4 linked regions of the Homo sapiens genome follow. The protein of the gene in region 4 interacts with the protein of the main gene of each other region in a pairwise test. Each region holds a gene or a part of one and is shown on either strand. Other genes may lie near its edges.

The links.
Region 1: the proteins of PRDM14 (region 4) and BEX2 interact in binary tests that used the Homo sapiens proteins (3 or more experiments, as listed by UniProt).
Region 2: the proteins of PRDM14 (region 4) and ABI2 interact in binary tests that used the Homo sapiens proteins (3 or more experiments, as listed by UniProt).
Region 3: the proteins of PRDM14 (region 4) and DMRT3 interact in binary tests that used the Homo sapiens proteins (3 or more experiments, as listed by UniProt).

Annotation. Positions count from the first base shown.
Region 1 is NC_000023.11:103,308,812-103,314,954, forward strand, and holds BEX2 (protein BEX2), read right to left. Parts: upstream 2,180-6,143; 5' UTR 2,049-2,179; exon of another isoform or gene 1,787-2,048; coding exon of another isoform or gene 1,772-1,786; intron 1,623-1,771; coding exon of another isoform or gene 1,547-1,622; intron 1,171-1,546; coding exon of another isoform or gene 1,166-1,170; coding exon 779-1,165; 3' UTR 535-778; downstream 1-534. UniProt on the Homo sapiens protein: Regulator of mitochondrial apoptosis and G1 cell cycle in breast cancer.
Region 2 is NC_000002.12:203,394,371-203,401,404, reverse strand, and holds part of ABI2 (abl interactor 2), read right to left. Parts: intron 6,706-7,034; coding exon 6,559-6,705; intron 5,750-6,558; coding exon 5,625-5,749; intron 4,621-5,624; coding exon 4,438-4,620; intron 1-4,437. UniProt on the Homo sapiens protein: Regulator of actin cytoskeleton dynamics underlying cell motility and adhesion. Functions as a component of the WAVE complex, which activates actin nucleating machinery Arp2/3 to drive lamellipodia formation.
Region 3 is NC_000009.12:986,636-992,247, reverse strand, and holds the end of DMRT3 (doublesex- and mab-3-related transcription factor 3), read right to left. Parts: intron 2,208-5,612; coding exon 1,243-2,207; 3' UTR 516-1,242; downstream 1-515. UniProt on the Homo sapiens protein: Probable transcription factor that plays a role in configuring the spinal circuits controlling stride in vertebrates.
Region 4 is NC_000008.11:70,054,250-70,061,283, reverse strand, and holds part of PRDM14 (PR domain zinc finger protein 14), read left to right. Parts: intron 1-2,441; coding exon 2,442-2,644; intron 2,645-5,882; coding exon 5,883-5,984; intron 5,985-7,034. UniProt on the Homo sapiens protein: Transcription factor that has both positive and negative roles on transcription. Required for the maintenance of embryonic stem cell identity and the reacquisition of pluripotency in somatic cells.

The sequences.
Region 1 (6,143 bases), on a different chromosome or scaffold from region 4:
GTCCACTGGACTTGTGAATATAGGGAAGACCTCACCTTGGAAATTTCCTCTAATAACAGAAGGGAATATCTAAAGTGTTGGGTCATGCATGTCAGTAAGAACAAGAACTTGGGAGAAAGCTCACAACCTCATTACCTTATCTGGTCCATACAACAAGCCTGGGAGGTGATTGTCTTCATCTTACTGATAAATATTATTATCTTCAAAGAGATGTGTCTCTTACATTTCTAAAAAGAGAACCCAGAGGCAAGCTAAAATTGAGATTCTGTCACAAGTGTTTAGTAAGTGCTCACATCGCTTTTATAAGGTGGTCACATTGCTTTTTATCAGTAATACGTGTTCCATTTTGAAAAATAAGAAATTATGGGTAAGCAAGAATAAACTCCCTCTTAATTCTACCACAGAGATAAACACTATTTACTATATATATGTGTGTGTGTGTATATATATATATATATATATATATATATATATATATATATATGACTGTTTAGGTGCATGTTTAAGATTTAAAGTAAAAAAGAATGCAGAGAATGCTTTTTAAAACTGTTTTATTAACTTCACAATATATAATGAGCATCTTTCCATGCAATAGGTAAAACTCTCCTGCTGACAGAAACTTACAAACTGGGTCAAAAACAACATTCATTTAGAAGCTGGTAATAGGAGACCCACAAGAAATAGGTAACATCAAAACGTTTACGACAAAGGTACACCACAAATGTGTAAGTTTAGGAAGCAGGGGTCTCCCTATTAACTTCAGGGAAACCATCAGGATTCAGGGCATAAGGCAAAACTCATCGTGATGGTCATGGTGAGGGGGATCAGTGCTGACTGCCCGCAAACTATGACTCAACTGCTTTTCCCTCAGCTTTTCCATCAGCTGTCTCACCTCCTCCCCAATCCTTTCCATATTCTCCTCTCTCATCCTTGCCTGTGGCTCTCCAAGCCTATGCATTATGTCCCATCTATACTGCAGGATGGGCTGCCTAACGCGGAACCGCCTACGGTTTCCTCTAGGCACACAGTATTCACTAACATTCAAAGGTAGGGCCAAGGGCTCCCCTTTATTAGCAACTTGCTCCTTTTCATCTTTTTCATCATTTTCCTGGTTGACATTTTCCACGATGAGATTGTTTAACGCTCGTTCCTCTTTGGACTCCATTACTCCTAGGAGACAGAGAGAAAATGGACTCAATTCTTGGTGAACTGATCAGCACCGAGGACAGAGGCCCGACTACCCACCTTTCAAAATTCAGAGCCCTGGATTTCAAAGGCCTTTTTTAAATTTCATTTTTTTTCCACCAGAGAGGCCCCATGTACCCTCGGGGGGGCGAGGGGAGCCAGTCTGTGCCCTTCTCTCCCGCAAAGCCCACCATCTTCTCTGCAGATCCATCTCCAGGCCTCTGCAGGCACCAAAATGGAGGACGAAGAAGGGGTGGGGGTGGGGGATTGCTAAGTGTGGGGGTGAAGGCACGGATTGGGGTCTCAGACTGGGCTTTCCTCATGTTCTGACCCCCTCCCCACCACCGTCCCTCGCACTGACCTGGGCCTATCCTTGCAGTCTCCTCCTCCCGATTCTCGACGTGAGGTGCGTCGCCGCAACACTTGGCCCCGCAAACCTGCAGACGGCCGGGGTGGGAAGAGTGGGGGCTGCTGCAGCGGAACGCTAGAGAGGACCCGCCGCCACCCGGCCCCTTCCCCACGCCGGGCCCGGGCCCTCCTAGCCGCTCTCGCCCCCCGCCTCAGCCGCCCAGCCCCCCAAGCTGACCACCATTTTCTGCATCAAGAAGGGCGGAGCAGGGGTGTTGGAAAAGCTTGCGCTGGTGACGGAGGCAGGTGCTTCCGAAAGGTCGTAGCCTCAGGATCGCCGGCTCCCGCGGGGCCGGGCACCCCTCCGCTCACACAAGGCTCGCGGTCCCGCGGCGGGGCCCCGGGGCTGCATCGTGGACCGGCTGCGTCTCCGCGCTGCTGCCCGGGGATGGGGCATCCGCAGGCCGGGGCTGCTCCCCCACACCAACCCCAGGGACCCCCTCCGGGTCCCTTACCTGCTCCCCCTCCGCTTCCTACTTTCGGGGCCGTACCTGGCCCGCACGTCCTCAGGGACACCGGGAACAGGTACCACTGCCGAGAAGGGAGCGAGCGACGGCGGTTCTGACGCCACAACGAGGTAAGACTCAGTGTTGGCCGATCACGTGTGGCTGTTGTCATCGCCAGAGGCTCCGCCCCCGTCCCACGCCCCCTCCTGCAGCCCGGAGTCAGGTGGTGCTTTCGGGCCCGCCCCCATCCTCACCGGGAGTCCCTTTTAACATCCCCAGCCTGGGCTCTGCCACTCTTCCTTCTCTGTATATTCTTGAGACTTCCCCTGCTTGCCCAGGAAGGACGGAAGGTATCTTCTCAGGGAGCTGTTGGCCATTCCCACTTCTCTGGGGACTTGCCTCTCTCTGCCCTTGGCTCCCAGGATTCACCTCCTTCTGCCTGTCTACCTCCTTCTGTCCTCCTACCAATATTCTCCGTTTTCTCTCCACTAAAATGAGTGGAAGAGGTGTATCAGGAAAGGAGCACAAGAGAGTAGGCTTTTCTCATTCTTAATACCTTTTCTGTATTATTTCTTTTGTAAAACACAAAAAATTAATATACTTCTTTAAAAAGGAAAAAAAGTTATTTTTACTTGAAAGACGGGATTAAAGTTGGGCAAAATGTCCCAACCACCTGTCCTGTTAAGTCATTATATAAATATAGACTCTACACGCAGCTGCTTTTTTAGAACTTGGAAAAGGACAGGGCAGCTGATGGCTCCCCTTTTGAGGGGCCCCTGGACACATGAGGCCCTTCTATGAAATGAGCTAGTGAGTTGTAGTGCTACAGAACCTTGTTGGGTTTTCATAACTAAAAGGAAAAAAAAGGCCTTTTTCACAAATTTCTGGTTCAAACGATAAGTATGTCTTTATTTAAAGATCAAGTAATCATGTATTTAGGAAATCCAGAGACATCTACGGTAAACCTACTATAGGAGTAAGAATTGATTTTAAGAAGGTTGCAGCTACAAGATAAATATTACAAACGTACTCATAAATTTATTTGAAAATGCAAAGGACCTAGAATAGACAAATAATTTTTTTAAAATATCCTACAAATCTTGAGAGTTACATTATATTATTTCAAGACTTAAGGTGTAATAATAAAGTTAGTGTAGTAGTAAACATAGACCTGTAGATCAATAGAACAGAATAGACTCCAGAAATAGACCCATACGTATGTTGTTAATTAGTTTTTGACAAAGATATCAAAGTAATTCTATATGGAAAGTATAGTCTTTTAAACTAATGGTGCTGAAATAACAGAATTCTTAAAGGAAAAAAAGGAGCCTTGCCTTTTATTTATACTATACACAAATTAATTCAAAATGGATCCTAGGCCTAAATGTAAAAGCTCAAATTAGAAAACTTCTAGAATAAAACATACAGAAAAACTTTACAATCTTTGAGAAAACAATTCCTTAGGACACAAAAAGAACAGATCACAAAAGAAAAAAATAAGAAATTGGATTTATCCAAATTAAAAACTTCTACCATTTAAAACACATGGTTAAGAAAATGAAGTGAGAAGCTGGGAGTAAATATTCACAGTATTTGTATCTGACAATGGTTTTGAATTCAGAGCATATATAAAGAACTTCGAAAACATAAAATAAGAAGGCAAATAATGCAGTAAAAATGATCAAAAGATCTGAATAAACATTTCACAAAACTACACACACAAATTACCAATGAGCTCATGAAAAGATGTTCAACCTCATTAACTATCAGGGAAATGTAAAATAAAGCCAGGATGAAAAATCACTGCACACCCATTATAATTGCTGAACTTAAAGTCTGACAGTCCCAAGCACTTTTGAAAATACTAAACAGCAGAAACTCTCACTGATTGTTGGTGAGAAGTTCAACCACTCTGAGACTTGGTGGCAGTTTCTTGAAAAGTTAGACTTACCATATGTCCTAGAAATTCCACTTTTCGGAATTTTCCCAACAGAATTTAAAACATATTTTCTCAAAAATATTTGCATAGGAATGTTCATAGAAATTTCCTTTATGATAGTCCCAAAGTTGATAAAAACTAAATGTCCAACAAGTGAAGTGATAAACAAATTGTGATGTATTCATACATTTTAACGCTGCTAAGCAATAAAAAAGTGACAAGCTACTGATACAAACAATAACATGGATGAATCTCAAAAAAATGAAAAAAATTTGTATCTATAAAGATACCAGCCACAATTGAGTGTTTTCTGCATGATTGCATTTATATAAGTTCTAAAACAGGCAAAACTAATCTGTACTGATATAAGTTGAATCAAATCAGTTTTTGCCTGGCTTGAAAGTTGAGGTTTTTGTGATTGCAAAGAGGCATAATGGAACTCTCTCAGCTGAGGAAAACATTCTGTATCTTAATGGGGTAGTGACTCCATTGACAAATACATTTGTTGAAATCATTGAACTATACAGTTAAAAGGTGTGTATCTTATTGTAGGTAAAATACAGCCCAATAAGTTTTGCTAAAAATCAAATATATAGAAATAAATCTAATTAAATACTTTCAAGACCTCTACACTGAAAATTATAAAATAGTTTCAAGAACATTAAAGAATAACTAAGTATAGGGATTACCATGATCATAGATGAAAACACTCAATATTTTAAGGATGTCAATTATACCCAAATTCATCTGTAAATTCAGTGCAATCCATATGAAAATCTCAACAGGTCACTTTTTGTTGATAAGCAGACTCCAAATATGTGTATGAAAATACAAAGAGCCGGGCCTGGTGCGGTGGCTCACGCCTGTAATCCCAGCACTTTGGGAGAGTGAGGTGGGCGGATCACGAGGTCAGGAGATCCAGACCATCCTGGCTAACACGGTGAAACCTGGCTCTACTAAAAATACAAAAATTAGCTGGGCGCGATGGCAGGCTTCTATAATCCCAGTTATTTGGCAGGCTGAGGCAGGAGAATCGCTTGAACCCGGGCAGCAGAGGTTGCAGTGAGCGGAGATTGCGCCACTGCACTCCAGCCTGGGCGACAGAGTGAGACTCTGTTTAAAATAAAAAGAAAAAGAAAATACAAAGAGTCAAATATAGCTAAGACAGCCTTTTAGATGGAGAAAGCTCCAAAACGTCCACTATTAGATATCAAAATTTAATACAATTTTATGAGTATGATATTGTCTCAAAGATTAAAATGTGTCTGTGTTTGTGTGTGTGTGTCTATCTTATATGGACCTGTGAAACATACCTACCTATACAGTCACCTAATTTATGATAAAGATGACAGTTCAATGAAGTGGGGGAAAGCATTTTTCTTTTCAAAAGTGGTTTTGAAAAGATTAGTTGGATATCCATATGGGGAAAAGATGTATATTGATTCCACCTTACATAATACATTAAAAACAAAAACGAAAAAAAAAAAAAAAAAAAAAAAACCTCAGTGGATTGCAGACCCAAATGGGAAAGGTAAAAATGTAATCCTAATGTAAAAAAACTCAGGGGATCACCTTCATGACTCTGGAGTAAGCAGTTTTCTTAAACAGGACACAAAAAGCACTAAGCATGAAGGAAAAAGATTATGGATTGCACTTTATTCATATTAAAACAAACAAACAAACAAAAAACTTCTAGGCCTGGCGCAGTGTCTCATGCCTGTAATCCCAGCATTTTGGGAGGCCGAGGCGGGCAGATCACCTGAGGTCAAGAGTTCAACACCAGCCTGGCCAACATGGTGAAACCCTGTCTACAAAAATACAAAAAAATTAGACAGGCATGATGGCGGATGCCTGTAATCCCAGCTACCCGGAAGGCTGAGGCAGGATAATCGCTTGAACCCAGAAAGTGGAGGTTGCAATGAGCCGAGCTTGTGCCACTGAACCCCAGCCTGGGCGACAGAGCGAGACTCTGTCTCAAAAAAGAAAAAAAAATTGTTTATCATACAACACCATTAAAAGAATGAGAAAGCAACCTGCAAACTGGGAGAAGATATTTGCAACAAATATATCTAACAAATGACTCATGTCCATAATGTATTATATAAAGAACTCTTAAAAATAAGTAAGAAAAGGAAAGATAATACAATGGAAAAATGGGAAAATAT
Region 2 (7,034 bases), on a different chromosome or scaffold from region 4:
GAGAGCACAATAGCAGACAAGGGAGAAGGGGAGGGCAAGAGAGAAGAGGAGGCGGAGAAATAAGCAGGTGGAGAAGAAAGCGGAAAGGGGACAGGAAGGTAGAGGAGGAGGAGATGAAGGTGGAGGAGGGCAAGAGGATAGCAGAGGGGAAAGGAAAGGAGAAAGAGAAAGGGAGAAAAGGAGGAGATAAGTGAAAAGGAAAAAAAAAACACTTTTGCTAAACCCAACAGGAAGCCAGAGGGCAAAAGAATCCACTGAAACATTTCATGGAGGTCAGCCTACTGGAGAAGAGGGGAGAGTAGAGGAGGGGGGACTGGAGGAACAGATGATACCTGGCACACTCATCTATCCATTTGTGCCTAAGGTTATCCTGAAATTTTTTAAATTCTAAAATAAACTACTTGAAACACAGTGAGATAAGACTTATGTAATATGGAATTTGATGAATGCTTGATTTGTTGAAATCTTCATGATCAAACACTGCAGTCATATCCTCTTCCAGGCTTCATATTTCTCAGCTGAGTCTTACCATCTTTATTCTACCTTAATATGAGACTATCTTCTTGGTAATTTTAATTAAAAGTATTAGAGGAAAACAACACTTTGACAATTTTTCATCTTGTCTATGATTATAAAATGGTTTTATATGACTAAAATTGTTCTACAGGAGCTGAAAGTTTACCAAGCTTAGATTCATATGGAGTCATATAAGGATTATAAGAGCACTCAAGGCTTGTTATAACATTTAAACATCTTACATGTGTATCAAAAACTTAAGCACTCAAGCTTAAACATAATCCACTATCAACTGAGAAGCCTCTGTAACCATGATAAAAATGAAAACATATAAACTATGATTTAAAAGGCATATTTAGTTATTTGAACCACTGAATACAATTAGCATTTCAGTAATTAATCTATAGCAAACTAATACAAACCTACGATCAAGTTAAAAACATCTGGATTAACATCATTATGAATTTTATATAGTTAGATCTAGTCTAAAACCTCACATGGGCTGGGCATGGTGGCTCAGGCCTTTAATCACAGTACTATGGGAGGTGGAGGCGGGTGGATCATTTCAGATCAGGAGTTCAAGACCAGCCTGACCAACACGGTGAAACTTTGTCTCCATTAAAAATACAAAAAATTAGCTGGGTGTGGTGGCTCACACTTGTAATCCCAGCTCCTCAGGAGGCTACGGCAGGAGAATCACTTGAATCCAGGCAGCGGAGATTGCAGTGGGCCGAGATTGCCACTGTATTCCAGCCTGGGTGACAGAGTGAGACTCTGTCTCAAAAAAAAAAAAAAAAAAAAAAAAAAAAGACACTATTCACACTATTAATGAGTCGATTTACCATTTGGGGTTTTAAAAATATATATACCTAATTATCATAAACCTAGCGATAAAACCTGAAACTAAAAACTTCTAGAAGAAAACACAGAACAAAATCTTTATGACTTCAGGTAAAGAGTTCTTAGATATGCCATCAAAGCACGATTCATTTAAAAAAATTTTGAAAAATAACACTTAATAAAAATGAAGAATTTCTGCTATTTGAAATACAACATCAAAAAAATAAATGAACAGGCTGGACCCAGTGGCTCACGCCTGTAATCCCAGCACTTTGGGAGGCTGAGGCGGGCGGATCACCTGAGGTCAGGAGTTCAAGACCAACCTGGCCAACGTGGTGAAACCCCGTCTCTACTAAAAATACAAAAATTAGCTGGGCATGGTGGTGGGTGCCTGTAATCCCAGCTATTTGGGAGGCTGGGCAGGAGAATCGCTTGAACCCGCGAGGCGGAGATTGCAGTGAGCTGAGATCCTGCCATTGCACTCCAGCCTGGACACCAAGAGTGAAACTCTGTCCGCCCGCCCCTCCTCCCCCCGCCAAAAAAATAGAAAATAAGCAAACGAATCACAAAATGGAAGAAAATATTTGTAACTCATAATCTATAAAGGACATATATTTAGAATATAAAAGAACTCAATGATAAGGAAAAAAACCCTATTAAAAAGGTGAGAAGGAACAAAACATTTGAACAGATACTTCACCAAAGAGGATATACACATGGCAAATAAGCACATGAAAAAAATGTTCAATATCATTAGTCATTAAGAAAATGCAAATCCAAACCACACATGTAATGAGAAACCATTACACATGTATTGGAATGGCTAAAGCTAAAAAAGGCAACACCAAGGGCTGACAAGGATGCAACTGGAAACTCACACATTGCTGCTGGGAGTGTAAAATTATACAGCCATTTTGGAAAACAACTTGGCAGTTTCTTATGACGTTAAAAATTTACTTACAATATAACCCAGCAATTCTATTCCCTAGGTATTTACCTGATATAAAAACCCATGTGCACAAAAAAAACCCTGTATGTACATGTTTATAGCAACTTTATTCATAAGCACTCAAAACTAGAAAAATCTAAATGTCCTCTGAGAAAGGGATAAACAAATTGTGGTACATCCCCATACAATACAACACTACTAAGCAATAAAATGTAATGAAATACTTAAACATGCAACAACATGGGTAATTCTCAAATGCATCTGGCCAAAAAAAACAGATCAAAAAAGCTACATACTATATGCTTTCATTTATGTTATACTTAAAAAGGCACAACTTTAGAGAAAAAAAACACATCAAGGGCTTACCAGGAGCTGGGAGTGGAAGGGAAGGACTGACTATAAAGGGGGCATGGAGGAAATTTTTGCGATGATAGGACTGTTCTGTAACTTGATTGTGGTGGCAATTACATGTCAGTACACCTTTGCCAAAACTCACAAACATATATGGTATAAAGGGTGAATTTTACTGTACATAAGTTATACCTTGGTAAAAAGAAAAACAATTGCTTGGTAACTCAGGTACTGTATAAAACAGACTATCCTGATATAAATTATTAATAAGACATTTACCTTGCTTTTTGTTTTAAAAACCACAGTTAATTATCCCCTCACATAACAAATGTTTATTTAGTGAACACTGAGCCAGGCACCTGTTATTCAATTAATATTTAATTACTAAAACATAGACTCTCAGTTGGGGGTGATTTGTCCTTTCTGATGCATTCTTTATCAAAGCAGGAGCATAACGAGATTCCTATATTTAACTAGTTAGTTTGGCCTAACAGTTGTATCTGGATCAAAAAACACCCCATGTTTACATTTATCTACTGCAGAAAGCTTTTCTTTAAAAGTCATATAGAAGGAATCCCACAAGACATCACCCAAAATCCATTTTGGCTAAAAGTGTCTTTTAAAACATGTAAAGATCTTATATATGTTTAACATGTATAACAGCAAAGCTGAATATAAATGCCATGAAGTTCTTCACTGGCAAGTGGAACACTACGGTGATTGATATGCTTTGAATCTGTGTCCCTGCCCAAATCTCATGTTGAATTGTAATCCCCAATGTTGGAGGTGGGGCCTAGGGGGAGGTGACTGGATCACAAGGGCGGTTTCTCATGGTTTAACACCATCCCCCTTGGAGCTGTTCTTGCAATAATGAGATCTGGTTGTTTAAAAGTGTGTAGCACCTCCCGCCTTGTCCTCTTGCTCCTACTCTGGCCACGTGACCAGTGTGCTTCCCCTCTGCCTTAGGCCATGAGTGTAAGTTTCCTGAGGCCTCCCCAGAAGCCAAGCAGATGCCACTATCATGCTTCCTGTACAGCCTGAAGAACCGTTAGCCAATTAAACCTCTTTTCTGCATAAATTACCCAGTCTCAGGTATTTATAGCAATGTGAGAACAGACTAATACAGTGATATATGTCCAAACACATACATTTTATAGCAGACAAGAACCTGTTACTAGCCAGCATCATTAACTCTACAAATATATTTCGTAGCAATTGAGTCTATCTCCTCCCCAATCAAAACAGATTTTAGATTGCAATTTTAAAACACCAGCCAACTTAAATAAACCTGAAATTCTTTAAAAGTCCATTGTCTATGAGTTTCCAATGCTGCTATAATAAGCAACAGATTCTGTTAAAAATAGACTTACAGAGGCTTTCCATTTGTTGTATCAAATATTTCCTATAAAATATACCTTAGAATTATTGTAATAGACTTTTGTTAATCACTTAACCTATAATGAAAATATTTCTAATGATAATTTCCAAAAACTGTATAGAAGGTAGCTCCATATTAAACTTAAAAATCTCTAATAAATGAAATTCAAGCAATAAAAAAACACAAATTTATGCTACCCTATTGGAAAAATGTATGAGAAACTTTACCTCAATTTTCTCAGGAAATGCTAATCTTTGGTCACATACTTTCTGGTTAGTACATTATTCTTATTTTTTTTTAATACGAAGTACAACAAAACCAAAAACAAACAAAAATCAGAGGTGCAAGTAAGAGAATAGCCAGATGACTGCATCTGCCTGCCAATGAATAAGCAAATACTTACCTGTAGGGGGAGTGGAAGAAACAACAGGGGGAGTTGGAGAAGTGAAGCCATCAGCAAGGGTCTGGGCACCCCCAGCAGCAGCGTCTGGGGCAGTGGAGGAAGGGACAGTAGCAGGAACAAGAGGAGCAGGGGCAGATGCAGAAGTAGCAGGAAGGGGAGGAGTGCCAGCAGAGCCAGCAGGGGCTGAGGGGAAAGAGGAGTAAGAGGCAGCATTAATGAGGCAATCACATGAGGCAGGATTAGAAAAGGTATTAGAGTATTTAATGTTAGATATTCAGTGCTTAACACTAACCAAAAGAACAGAGTTGAAAAAAAGAATAAAACTTATGCTAAAGGATTACTATATAAGCAGCAAATAATTCAAGATGCTCAGGGTAATGTGCAGATTTTTTCAATTCATTAAAAACAAACATTCCTTTTCAATTGAAAGCACTACTCCAGAAGAAAAGTGTTCCCTTCGTATTGTTATTTTTAGCATAACATTCTGTATATAGTATACAAAACTAACATAATACACTAAAAAACAACAGTTTTCCATTTTGAATTACACAAATCAGAAAATAGACATATTCCATATTATCAGATTAAAAATTTTTTTTAAAACACAAATCTTTATGATTTTTAAAAGGCATTATCTACTTGTTACTATAAGTAAATTAAGTATGTAACATTCTATTAATGTATTTTGTGTCACGTTTTCAAAACTAAGTTTTAAGTGTGTATCTCCTCGAATCAAATAAGCAGATTTTTCTGTTTCAGAGAAAAGAGGGTAGTATTTTCAGAGACTACTAAATTCCAATACAGCCACTAAATTTAACTGTCAAAACTACTTTTTATATCTGCCCAATCCTTTGTTACTAATATGGTTCTCACACTGAGTTCCCACTGTGTCCAAAGACTGCACTGTCATAACACTAGCTGGAATTAAACTTGTACTCATAACAAAGTGTGATCTGAAACCTCAAAGCAGCAACTGAGCCACATCACCAAAGGCATAAAGAGAAGTGCAAAGTGAGCAAACACTTACAAATCACTTGCTTACAAATAACAAATATATAGACTTCCCAATATTTATGATTCCTAAAGAAAAAAAATCCTGATTACGAAGAAAGCCCACCATAATTAAATCACAAATTGAATCAAATTCAGAAAGGAAAAGTGAAGACGAGGCACCATGAATGTTTTACCTGGAAAGACACTGGGAGGAGATGGAGTAGGAACAGCAATAGGAACCCCCACACTACCACTTCCACTGTTCTCTCGACTGCTGCTCCGACTACTTGGGTGGCTCCCTCCACTACTCCCACTGCTGCTAAAGAAATAAGAGCCACCAAAACATGAGTATTTATAAACAGTAAGAGATCATCAGCACTTCCCGACATTTTCTGAGATGAATGTAGCTACAATAAAGGTAATTCAAAAGCGTACCACTTCAAAATAAAATTTCCTTGAGCTCCAAGTCAGTGACAGGTTAAAAAAAAATGTGTGTGTGTGTGTGTGTGTGTGTGTGTGTGTGTGTATATATATATATATATTTACTTATTAATAAAGTTGAGGGGAAAACTGAGTTCAATAAGCTTGTTTTGACCACATTTTGAAAAAATTATCCATAAATACAAGTGATAAATGTTGAGGTTTAACACATTAAAACAATAAATATTGCCTTTTTATATTCCAGTTTAATGCCTATCTGAAGAAACTTCTTTTATAATAAAACAAAAACATTTTCCTAAACAGATTTGAGTAATTTTAATTAATAATCATACTCTGATGTACTATCCCATATTAATGTTTTATTATGTATAGTTTTTCATCTGTAAAGTTCCACCAAAAAACAACCTGACATTTCCCACATTTGGTCCATAATTTTTTTTCCAGATCAACTGAACTCTTAAAACTTGGAGAGAAGTCTGCACTTTGAGATGTCTGTTCTTTATCAACTTCCTGACTGCTCAAAGTTGAATCAGAACATGAGGAGAGAGAGGTGAAATCAGATGAGGTTTGGGAGAATAGAGTGAGGAAAAGAACTTAGTGCTTGGAAAATGAGAGATTTACCTGAAGTAATCTGAACAGATTATGGTACTATGACCATCACATTTTGCACTGAGGTAGAGAAAATACCTGTAAGTTCGATTTCTTTGATTCACAGAAGCTGTCCTCACAGGGCTCTGCTGCGAGGGAGCCATATTACGGGTTGGGCTAGGTACGTAATCATTTGGTACCACTGGAGGACGCACTGGCTCCAGTGTGCGATAGGGGGAGTGCCGCCTACAAAAAGAAGAGCGTATGTATTGTATGATTAAGCAAGTTTCGGCACAATAAATTCAAAGAGTTGCCAGCAGTTGAGATACAATTTGTAATCAGAGATAGGAAATGTGTTTTAACATAACCCAGCTACCAATTTCAGTCTTTACTAATGTATCACTTCTCCACCATTAGGGTTTTGGTGAATATTGTTATTTTTCAGTCTCCAACCTCATTTCCCTGTGCTAATGCAATTTTGTTCATTTATTCTCAAAGAGCACAAAGGTTCTCTACCATTTAAGCCAATGTTTCCCAGACCCTACCTCTTCTTAGAAGAGTTGGAATTCTTTTAG
Region 3 (5,612 bases), on a different chromosome or scaffold from region 4:
CATGGTCTCCAAGTAAGAATGAAGGAATGCACGTCTATATTCTGAATGCAAGGCTACTGAATTTCATTAATAGAAGCAGTAGTTTTCATGGACTGCATACTTCCTATGTCAGGTACTGGGCTAAGCACTTTCCTTGCTTCCCACACTCAACTATACATTGTTGGGAGTTTTCCATTTTTACTTTGTTTTCAATGGGATTCTCCACTAAAATATCTGCTTATCTAGGACTCACGGGTAGGTAACTTGGACAATACATGGAAAGCACATTCTCTTACACATAGTAGGCACTCAGTAAGTATCTGTTGAATAAGTGAATGGATGGAGAGAATTAACTCCATTTTGAACAAATTATCTTTCTGAATGCAACCCTAAAACTTTGCCATTCATATTTCTCAGGAATGTCTCATTTAACTGATAATTTGATTCCTGGCCCATGCGTTAGTAAAAGTCATTTTTACATCAAGTTTCTATTTTTAGAGATCCTCTTTCCACAAGTAGAAATGACATAAACCACGCTCGTCTCCTTAGTTTATTTTTTTCTAGAGTCCTTAACATGCTACATTAACCTGACAAAGCTTAATCTTGTGTTCGTTTCACAATACATTTCATGCAGTTCACAGCTGTGATTGGTTTTACATTGACATTACACATGTTTCGATTCAGCCATGTGAAAAGAGTAATTCTTAATGGGGTTTGTCTCTGAAAACTGTCCAAGCTTAAATAAGCATATGAGCAGTTCACTCTATTCTTAAGTGCATCTCTCTTTAAAATGCAAGGATTTTTAGTGTAAGAATATAATGTCCCTGTTTATAGTCCATTTGCAACAGAACCACTTCCTTTAGGTTTCACATATCCTGAGGAATCCACTTTTACAAAATTGCATTCAAGTATATTATTTCATTTAACATTCCAGGTTGGGTTTAGGTGCAAGGCTGACCTTCAGCTTTACATCCCCAAATAAATCTTCCACGGACCCAGCCTTCCCAAGACTATTCTTAACATTAGACTCTCTTTTACAATAAACATTCAGCACTAAAGCCACAGAACAGAGCTATTTGGCATTTTCCAGTGAAGTGCAAGAAGTTAAATAAGTTATGTTTTTATTGCTAATGTATAGAATCAAGCACAGTCACTTTGTCAAACAGAAGGAAAGGGCATACACAAGATGTGGCCTCTCCTCAGATGCCTCAGGGTCAAAACGCACAGAAAATGTCACCTGGCCACCACCCATCCAGCACCACTTTAAGATGATGTGTTGAGTGTTCTAGAGTCTGAGGAGTCAGACCTCTCGTCATAGTCGTCCTCGGTGTAAATGGACTGCTTTGACACAAATGGACACCCATCATCAGGGATGGAAATCCGAGGGTCTTCCGTGGCGCGGGCAGGAAGGACGGGCGAGCTTCTGAAGACGCTGGTAGAGTTACTGGGGAAAGGACTGACATACTGGGACCTCAGCTGATACTGCTGCTGCAGCGTCATGGTGTTCCACAGGGTGACATCATTGGGCAAAAAGGGGCTCGACTGGCTTCTCGCCAAAGTATTCCTCAGCATCAGCGGGTACCGGGGTGGCTGGGGGAAAGGGGGCTGCAGAGGCCCAGCCAAGGGACTGGGGACAACGTTGCTAGAGTCGGCAGAAAACCTCAACGTGTCTGGGACTCGAAAGGCTGATCCCACAGACCATTTGGAAGACGAGATGGGGTAGGAGCTCAAGGTGTGTTCAAAGATGTGCCCATTGGAGGGCAACGCTAGACTCTCAGGTTCTGCGGAAGTTCGCTCTGCTCCCGTGACTGAGGATCGGCTGGACAGAAGGACTTCCACGGCGCTCACCAGGTCCCCGCCACAGCCCTTGAGGATGAGCTCAAGCACCGTTGGCTTCTGGTTGGGGAATATCTTTTTTAACACTTCAAGCGGCGGTCTGTTGGCTTTCAAGCTGAAGGGCAGAGAAACAGTCCCCGAGGGGCCCTCAATCAGGAGGTGATTCTGCTCCGCGTGACACTTGGGGCTGTCAGGGCGGCTCTCGGGGTTGCCTCCGTTTTTCTGGACAGCGTATCCCCCTTCCTCCACGGACACTATCTCAGGGCTCTCAGGGGTGAAGCAGCCCTTACTCTTTGCCACATCTGGGGAACTCCTCTGGTCAGTGTCTTTGTCACTGAAGACCTCTGTATTGTCTGCCGACTTGCCGTCTCCAAGTCGTTCTTCAGTCAAATCTGGAAAACAGAACAGCTGAGTTAATCTTTTCCTGGTGTGCATAAAGAGGAGCAGATGTGCTCAGAAGAGACCTGTACACGTGCTTTTTGGAAGAGCAAATGCATCTCAATGGGTCATAATATACTACAAGCCTTTTTAAAAAAATTCGAACTATATCACTGGCAAATGAAACAAAAACCCTGTAAATAAAGATCTAGAAATCAGAGTGGCTTCCTGGAATGCTTTGTGCAAGGAAGCTTGCCTTCAACATAGAATGGCTACATGAACCTGTAACATATGGCTTTCATAGCAGTAACAATCTCAATAGAGAGCCTCTTTGGGAGGAGGGGTGGGGGACTCCTGGAAGAGCAAAGCTCAGGGAGAAACAGGAAAATCAGCTCAGCTTGTCTTCCGGCTCCTCTTCTGCAAATAAGGTCCCCAGCTGTTATCTAGGGATAGTACCATCCAGATACCCACAGGGAATTTTAATATCTGAAATCTATTTTCCCATAGGCTGATTTTGTGTTAAATATGTCTTATGAACCAATCAGTAAGTTGCATCAGGTTACCATATACAATAGCTAGCTAATTCAATTGCTGAAGTGAAAGATACCTCTATCCATTGAAATCTTTCATAAGAAGCCACTTGAGGCATTGGCAAACTTGGTTGCCAATAACTTGTACTAGAAAGCAAACGAAACCAGCTATGAATTCCGGATGGCAGGATAAGTTGCTGGAGAGGAAAAAAGGAAGTGGCTAGAAAGGGTTTGTTAAATTGCACGGGGGCATTATTATCCATCAATGAAACAACGCATCACACTCCACCGCCACGGGTGGCACGAGGCAGATACCTGTGCATGAACTGTTTTGCTGGTACAGTTCATGGAAAGGACTTGAAGATACCTTTTTTTAAAGCCAGTGAAATTTGAAGATACCTTTTTATATTATATGAAAAGAAGAAGGAGGGAAAAAAAGGCTTCCCAAATAAAGCAGAGACTTGCGATAAAGTAAACCAGTTGCAAATTTAACATCTTGACCTAAGAACATTTTTACTTAACAGCTGGTAATATTGCAGGGCTAAGCACACAGAAAAGAGTAAGTCAGAGTGGTTTGCTTTGCAGTAGTAAATTCCAACAGGACTTTATAATAAAGAAACATATTTTTTAGTAGCAAGCTATTTGCAAATAGAGTTTTGTCCTTTTTTGAAACACGCGCTGGCTGTGGCTACTCAAAGCCAGGGTAGCTGATCGAAAGATGAAAATTCCTAATGACCCAGTTGTTGAGTTGTAAACAATTGCTTTGCCTGTGTTTTCTGCTGCCCTGCCTGAATAGCTTCATTGTTGCCTTCTCTGTGGGCACACCTGATTATATACAGATAGCCAGCCGGTGAAATTTCATCAAAGCACCCTCTAGAAACAATCTTCTCCTACACTTGTCATTTTAAAAGCCTTAAGGGCCTACTTATGAACATTCTTCTAATACAGGTGTATCTTAAGTGTAACCAAAAAACAAAACTTTGTGAAATTTCATCAAAGCACCTTCTAGAAACCATCTTCTCCTACACTTGTTATTTATTTTAAAAGCCTTAAAGGCCTACTTAGAAACATTCTTCTAATACAGGATGTATCTCAGATGTAACCAAAAACCAAAACTTTGGCCTTTAACAAAGCAATAAATATGTGGCAAACATAAGTAAATACACTTTAAAACACTCTTCAATTACCTCAGTGCAAGTGTCAACATACATCTGATAGGAATTCATACTTATCCCAAATTTGCATTTTAATTAAACTGCTTCTTTTTTAATATAAAATATAAGGTTTCCAATGAGAGGTTCATTTGCGTCACATACATATGAAGCCATCTTCACTTTATATAATGACTCTATAGAAAGACTCTACTGTAGAATGACTCTATTTTTGTAAGAGAAATTTGACATATTCTCTCCTACAACTTCTTAGGATGGGGGACACAGCTTTTACCTCTTGAGTTAATGTGGTATTTGAACTCATGTCCTTGATTCAAAAGAGAAAAACAGCAACAAAAAGGCTTCTATAGATTTACTTTATAATCAGCTAGATCTATTTAAATGTTCCTGACTCATGACCCATACATACTTCTTGGCTGTTACTCTATTATTAAACATTTGAAAATTATTAAACACTTGAAAAGTGATAGCATATTAATATACTATCACTTTTAGAAATTGGAAAAACAAGTCAAATACTCTCCCCATGTAAATATGGACATAAAGTACTTCTTTAAAATACTATGTACTTCTAAACAGTTTCCTTATTTTTTAATTTTAGCGTAATTATCAGCACCAAGTATTTATATTTCTGCACGATACTGGGAGAAACAGAATAAAGGATGAAAAACACCAAGAAGTGTAAGACCCACACCTAGCTTATGGACCTTATCTTCTAGCTGGGGAAATAAGACACACATGCAGGAGAAGAAGCAAACAGGGCCTGGCAGCATTTGCTAAGCCTCAAATATGACACACATTGTATACCAATGTTCATGGCAGCAGCATTCACAATAGCCAAAAGGTGAAAGCAACCCAAATGTCCATCAGTGCATGAATGTATAAAACGTGGTGTACACACACACACACACACACACACACACACACACACACACACACAGTGGGATATTATTCAGCCTTAAAAAGGAATGGAATTCCAATACATGCTATAACATGGATGAACCTTGAGAACATTAGGCTAAGTGAAATAAGCCAGACACAAAAGGACAAATACTGTATGACTCTACTTATATTCGATACCAAGAATAGGGAAATTCAGAGAGAAAGTAGTGTGGTGGTTGTCAGGGGCTGGAGGAAAAGGGAATGGGGAGTTATTGTTTCATGGGTATGGAGTTTCCGTCTGGAATGATGAAAAGGTTCTGAAGATGGATGGTGGTGATGGTTGCACAACATTTTGAATAAATGCCACTGAATTGTGCCCCTAAAAATGGTTAAAATTGTAAACTTTATGTTATATATACTTTACCACAATAAAAAAAGAAAAATATATGCCACACAGTGTCATAGTAATATAGAGAATGAAGAGATTTTTTTAAGCAAGAGAAACAACTAGTCCTTCTTGGGAATAAAGCGTACATAGGCACAGCTGGAAAGCTCAAAGCTCAACTTTTTTTTTTTTTTTGAGACAGAGTCTCACTCTGTCACCCAGGCTGGAGTGCAGTGGCATGGTCTCGGCTCACTGGAAACTCTGCCTCCTGGGTTCAAGTGATTCTCCCGCGTCAGCCTCCCGAATAGCTGGGACTACAGGTGTGTGCCACCACACCCAGCTAATTTTTGTATTTGTAGTAGAGACAGGGTTTCACTATGTTGGCCAGGCTCCTCTCGAACTCCTGACCTCATGATCCACCCGCCTCAGCCTCCCAAAGTGCTGGGATTA
Region 4 (7,034 bases):
GATCTCTGTGGTGCATTCATAGTCAAAGCCACTTTATCCTCTGGGATCCAGAGTGTCCTCTGCAGGGATGCTTTTGTAGGTGGCCCCTGTTCTCTCGCCTTCCCCCAACACATAGACACCCCTGGACGTGGGACCTGCTTTGCTAGAGTCTAGCTGCACCCTCTCTAACTTCTCTCCTCCTCCCTCCTCCATTGATAAAAACAGATTTACCTCTCAGTCTTGTCTGCCATTCAGTGATAGTATCACTCACATTGGTAAGACTCGGTAAGTGTTAGAATTAAATTAGTCATCACGGTAACCCTGTGCATTAGGGAAGTCAAGATGCTTTCAACCTTACTCTATACATAAAGATTCTAGCTCTGGAATCTGCCACAAGTTTTGAGTAATGAAGTATAAACTAAGAAGGTCCCTTGAATTGTGTAGAATAGAACAGCACTGTGAGCTGCGGGTGTCCTGGTGACTGCTCTGAGCTTGTAACTCAGGCTGATCTTAAAGGCACAAAGAGAAATAGGTCGGCCTCAGTGCCTCAGTGTATTAACCTTGTAACAAGTGCCAGGCAGGAATGTGTTCAAGAGCTGCAGGGTTGCACTGCCCTTAAATGGGGCTGGTGGAATGGTCTCTTCAACAGTACATATCAAGGAACAAAAGGGAAAGAGAGCCTATAGGTTAAGATATTTAAGAGACATAGCAACCATATACAACATGTAGACTTTGTTTGAAGCCTAATTTGAATGGACTGACCAGAAAGTAATTAAACAAATATATATGTGTGTATATAAATGTGCATATATAAGTACATATATGTTTCTATAAAAGAATAAGAGTTAATCGTTTAGGTATGACAATGTGACAATGACATTATGGTTATGTTTTTTTTTTTTTTTCGAGACAAAGTGTTGCTCTGTTGCCCAGGCTGGAGTGCAGTGGCTCAATCACTGCTCATTGCAGCCTCAACTAACTTCCCCAGGCTCAGGTGATCCTCCCATCTCGGCCTCTGGGACTAAAGGCGTGTGCTATCATGCCCAGATAATTTTTATTATTTTTTTGTAGAGATGGGGTCTTACTATGTTGCCCAGGCTGGTCTCAAACTCCTGGGCTCAAGCGATCTGTCCACTTCAGCTTCCCAGAGTGTTGGGATTATAGGCGTGAGCCACTGCACCTGGCACAATTATGCTTTTTTTTTTTTTTTTGAGATGGAGTTTTGCTGTTGTTGCCCAGGCTGGAGTGCAGTGGTGCAATCTTGGCTCACTGCAACCTGCGCCTCCCAGGTTCAAGTGATTCTCCTGCCTCAGCCTCCCAAGTAGCTGGGATTACAGGCAGGCACCACCACGCCTGGCTAATTTTGTATTTTTAGTACAGACGGGATTTCACCATGTTGGCCAGGCTGGTTTTGAACCCCTGACCTCAGGTGATCCACCTGCCTCAGCTTCCCAAAGTGCTGGGATTATAGGCGTGAGCCACTTTGCCTGGTCACAATTATGCTTTTTAAAAATATGTCATCTTCTAAAGATTACGGTTAGATGTTTTTGAGTCAAAGGATGAATTAGTATTAAAATAATCTACTATGGCGAGCGGTGATATAAATGAAAACAAAATTAGTTACGAGTTGGTCAAAGCTTGGTGTTTGGCACATGAGGGTTTATTACACTATTATTTTCACTTTGGTATGTTTACATTTTTCTGTAATAAAAAGGTTTTTAAAAATTCTCTTGGCGGCCGGGCATGGTGGCTCATGCCTGTAATCCCAGCACTTTGGGAGGCCGAGGCAGGTGGATCACAAGATCAAGAGATCAAGACTGTCCTGGCCAAGATGGTGAAACCCCACCTCTACTAAAAATACAAAAATTAGCTGGGCGTGGTGGTGTGTGCCTGTAGTCCCAGCTACTTGGGAGGCTGAGGCAGGAGAATCACTTGAACCCGGGAGGTGGAGGTTGCAGTGAGCCGAGATCACACCCCTGCACTCCAGCCTGGGTGACAGAGCAAGACTCCATCTCAAAAAAAAAAAAAGAAAAGAAAAGAAAATTCTCTTGACCAGGCACAGTGGCTCACGCATGTAATCCTAGCACTTTGGGAGGCCAAGAGGGGCTGATCACCTGAGGTCAGGAGTTCTAGACCAGCCTGGCCAACATGATGAAACCCTGTTTCTACTAAAAATACAAAAATTAGCCAGGCGTGGTAGTGGGCACCTGTAATCCCAGCTACTTGGGAGGCTGAGGCAGGAGAATCGCTTGAACCTGGGAGGCAGAGGTTGCAGTGAGCCAAGATCGTGCCACTGCACTACAGACTGGGCAATACAGCAAGATTCTGTCTCAAAAAAAGAAAATTCCTCTTGAAGTAGCCAAAGAATTCTTGGCTAAAAATAAATAAATAAATAAATATCCTCTTGAAGGAACTAGGGAGGGAAGTAACTGAAGAGACATTGTGTTTGCTGTGTTTGACAGAGTCTGCAGAAGGCTACAGATGTGAAAGATGTGGGAAGGTATTTACCTACAAATATTACAGAGATAAGCACCTCAAGTACACCCCCTGTGTGGACAAGGGCGATAGGAAATTTCCCTGTTCTCTCTGCAAACGATCCTTTGAGAAGCGGGACCGGCTTCGGATCCACATTCTTCATGTTCATGAGAAGCACCGGCCTCACAAGGTGAGTATTAGGAGGACACATGACCCACCATCACGTTCTCTCTCCCTTCCCAAGCTCCTGAACACGGGGAGTTGCCTTGTAGGTGCTAGCTGCAGGGCTGTGATGCCTGACGGACACCCTCTCTGAAGGAGGAGAGGATAGTATTACGGAACAGGCAGGCGTGAATAGGCACAGCGATGCACATGTGTTAGGATGCAGGTACCCACAGAGGGAGGAACATGGAGGAAGGAGTGTCCACGGCCACCTGGACACGTGGATTATGAAAGATGCACAGAGGTGGCCTTGAGCCAAGTATAGAAGGACAAATGGGGTGTCTGATTTATACTGGTGGCAGGGTTAGTTGGGCAGGAAAGAGTCGAGCTGTTCCAGACAGGAGAGAGCCTGGCATGTGCTCCTGGGGAACTGCGCCTTGTTCCAAATCTGTGCAGGTGTGTTGACAGGTATAGGTAAGAAGGAAGTGAAGGCACGGTCCTTCCAAGGAGCGGAAGGCCTCTACAGTGGGCCGAGGATTTTGTAAGACAGAAAATCAGTAATGACATTACGGAGCCATTCCAAATACCTGGATGCTCTGCTAGGCTTGCTGCAAAAAAGTACAATATTCCCTTGGGCTTAATTAAAAGGAGGACGAGGCTTGGGCACAGATGTATTCTTGCTTGACTGTTGGCCTTGTCGGAACTACCTCAGGCAGCTACGACCTTGAGCCCATTTTCCTGTTTTGAAAACTGAGAATAAAATCATCATAAAATTGTCCTAATTTCTCCCTTCCTTCCTAAGCTTCTGGAAAAGTCATGTTTAATCACTATATTATATACTCCTATAAAATTTGAATACATTTACAGTTATCATGCATTTGTGTAATTCTAAAAGGATTTAAAAATATCAGGACGGTGAAGGTATTTCTCGCTTATTAGACTGGCAAAAGTGAAAACTATCCAGTATTCTGATAGTGAAAAGTTTGAGACTGCATGTTCATCAACACAAAATTGATTATATAAATTATGGCTTACTGGCCAGGCGCAGTGGCTCACGCCTGTAATCTCAGCACCTTGGGAGGCTGAGGTGGGCAGATCACCTGAGGCCAGGAGTTCGAGACCAGCCTGGCCAACATGGCGAAACCCCATCTCTACTAAAAATATAAAAACATTAGCCGGGTGTGGTGGCAGGCACCTGTAGCCCCAGTTACTCTAGAGGTTGAGGCAGGAGAATTGCTTCAACCCCAGAGGCGGAGGTTGCAGTGAGCCGAGACTGTGTCATTGCACTGCAGCCTGGGTGGCAGGAGTGAGACTCCATCCCAAAAAAAAAAAAAAAATATTGTCTTATCAAGCAAAAACCAAATTACAGAAGATGTATAGAATGCTTGCTCTCTTTGAAATTGGAGGCCGGGAGTGGTGGCTCACGCCTAATCCCAGTACTTTGGGAGGCCGAGACAGGTGGATCACGAGGTCAGGAGATCAAGACCATCGTGGCTAACATGGTGAAACCCCATCTCTACTAAAAATACAAAAAATTAGCCAGGCGTGGTGGTGGGCACCTGTAGTCCCACCTACTCGGGAGGCTGAGGCAGGAGAATGGCGTGAACCTGGGAGGCGGAGCTTGCAGTGAGCCGAGATCGCGCCACCGCACTCCAGCCTGGGTGACAGAGCGAGACTCCGTCTCAAAAAAAAAAAAAAAGAAAAGAAACTGGAGGGCTGTCAACCAGGAGGTCAGTAGATGACAGGACTGATGAGGAAGCTGGTGATAGTGAGATGATGGCTTACCCTTCAACAGACGAGGTGCTCTTACAGTACAGTGGAGGAACAATCTTTTTTTTTTTTTTTTTTTTTGAGACAGTCTCACTCTGTTGCCCAGGCTAGAGTACAATGGCATGATCTCAGCTCACTGCAACCTCCACCTCCTACGCTCAAACAATCACCCAACCTCAGCCTCCCAAGTAGCTGAGCTGAGGCTATAAGTGCATGCCACCATGCTCAGCTAATTTTTTGTATTTTTTGTAGAGATGGGCATGTGGTGCGCACCTGTGGTCCCAGCCACTCGGGAGGCTGAGACACCAGAATTGCTTAAACCCAGGAGGCAGAGGTTGCGGTGGGCCGAGATCATGCTACTGCACTCCAGCCTGGGCAACAGAGCGAGGCTCTGCCTCAAAAATAAATAAAAATAAATAAATAAACAAATACAAAGATTTGCTCTCTCCTCTGCCCCATAAGCATGCCTGGAAAGAGGTTGTGAAAGCACAGAAACCTTTCTCAGAGAAAAATTGTTTTTTCTCTTTAGTTAGTGTAATTTCCTTAAAAGTGATGTCAAAACCAAAGGCCTTCTGCTTTATCCCTGGCAAACTCTCGGTGCTTGCACCTCTCTGGTAGTTTACTTCACCTGGTGTAGAATTCCTGAGACAGTTTCGAGAGGAGTTGCCAGGGTCAAGAAACAATATTAATTATTCACAGCGTGTGAACAAAATATTAACCTCTTCATGCAAGTTCAACACGTCTCAGATAATCTGCTACTGTGCATTACCATGTTGGCTTACATGTTCATCGTCACCCCTCCTTGATTTCTAGCTCCTGGTTTCTAGCAGTGTGGAGCACACAGTAGGTACTCTGTAAGTCGTAGATAATTGTTGAGTTAATTGCACAGTACTTGTAGTTTACTCATAGCTCTGTGAGGAAGGCAGAGCAGGTATTTTGCCCATGAGCAAGATCGGGAAACTAAGATTCCAGATTTAACCAATGTTCTGTAGTCACACAGCTACCTGTTGAGAGAGCAGGACTAATTCAGGCCTCTGCCATATACCACAAACCTGTTCAGTTCCCACATTCCACATCTGAAGCAAGAGTTCTCTCAGGTCGGGTGCCGTGGCTCAAGGCTATAATCCTAGCACTTTGGGAGGCCAAGGCAGGAGGATCTGTTGGAGTTCAAGACAAGGCTGGGCAACATAGTGAGACCTCATCTCTACAAAAAAAAATTTTTTAAGTTAGCTGGCTTAGTGGCACGCACCTGTAGTCCCAGTTACTCAGGAGGCTGAGGTGGGAGGATCGCTTGAGCCTGGGAGTTCCAGGCTGCAGTGAACCGTGATTGTGCCACTGCAGTCCAGTCTGGGTAACAAATTGAGATCCCGTCTCAAAAAAAAAAAAAAGAAAAAAATTGGAAAAGAGTTCTTCTCTAACCCCAGGTAAACGCAAGGTTGAAATGGACTTGTTAGAGGAAGGTGTGATTTCAACTATATTTTTCTTTTTCACCTTAGTGTTCTACATGTGGGAAATGTTTCTCTCAATCTTCCAGCCTAAACAAACACATGCGAGTCCACTCTGGAGACAGACCATACCAGTGTGTGTATTGTACTAAGGTAAATGGAACCTCTTACTAAGGGATGTGTCCTGAGCTCTGCTTGAGTGTCTATGGATAAGAACTTGAAACAAAGCCTGGCTTAATGAGTTCTTGGTAAATGTTAGTCAAATATCAGCCCAGTCCTCATTTCCACCCCTAAATATGCTCAAGTTTGCTAAAGATGGTCAAATATAACCAACCTCCTATTGCCAAGCTGGCATTTAGAGTACATGTAATAAAATACATTCCAAATTTATGGGGACCTGATGACCTATTACATAGTATTTAAAAGCACTAGCTGAGTGTGGTGGCTCACACCTATAATCAAATTTTCCATGCATCGGTGGCTTATGCCTGTAGTCCCAGCTACTTGGGAGGCTGAGGCTGGAGAATTGCTTGAGTCCAGGAAGTGGAGGTTGCAGTGAGCCAAGATTGCACCACTGCACACTCCAGCCTGGGTGACAGAGTGAGACACTGTCTCAAAAAAAAAAGGAGGGGGTGGGGAGGCGTGGTGGCTCAAGCCCGTAATCCCAGCACTTTGGGAGGCTGAGGTGGGCAGGTGCCTGGAGATAGGGAGTTCGAGACCATCCTGGCCAGCATGGTGAAACCCCATCTCTACTAAAAATACAAAAATTAGCTGGGCATGGTGGCACGTTCCTGTAATCCCAGCTACTTGGGAGGCTGAGGCAGGAGAATCACTTGAACCCAGAGGCAGAGGTTGCAGTGAGTCAAGATTGTGCCACTGCACTCCAGCCTGAGTGGCAAAGTGAAACTCCGTCTCCAAAAAAAAAAAAAAAAAAAAATCACTATTTCATAGTATTTAAGAACACAAACATGGCCAAGTTTCAAATCCTGCCTCTGGTGCTTACCTAGCTGTGCCACCCTGAGCAAGTCCATGAACTCCTGTTAGTTTCCACATTGATAAACTGGGGAGAATAGTCTTTACCAAGTTGTTGGATAACATCAGTAAAGTATATAAAACTCTTGTAACAGTGCCTGGCATAACATAAAAGTACTACTGGAATGTTAACTGCTATTATTACTACTTTAATCTGTGAAGGATGCTACT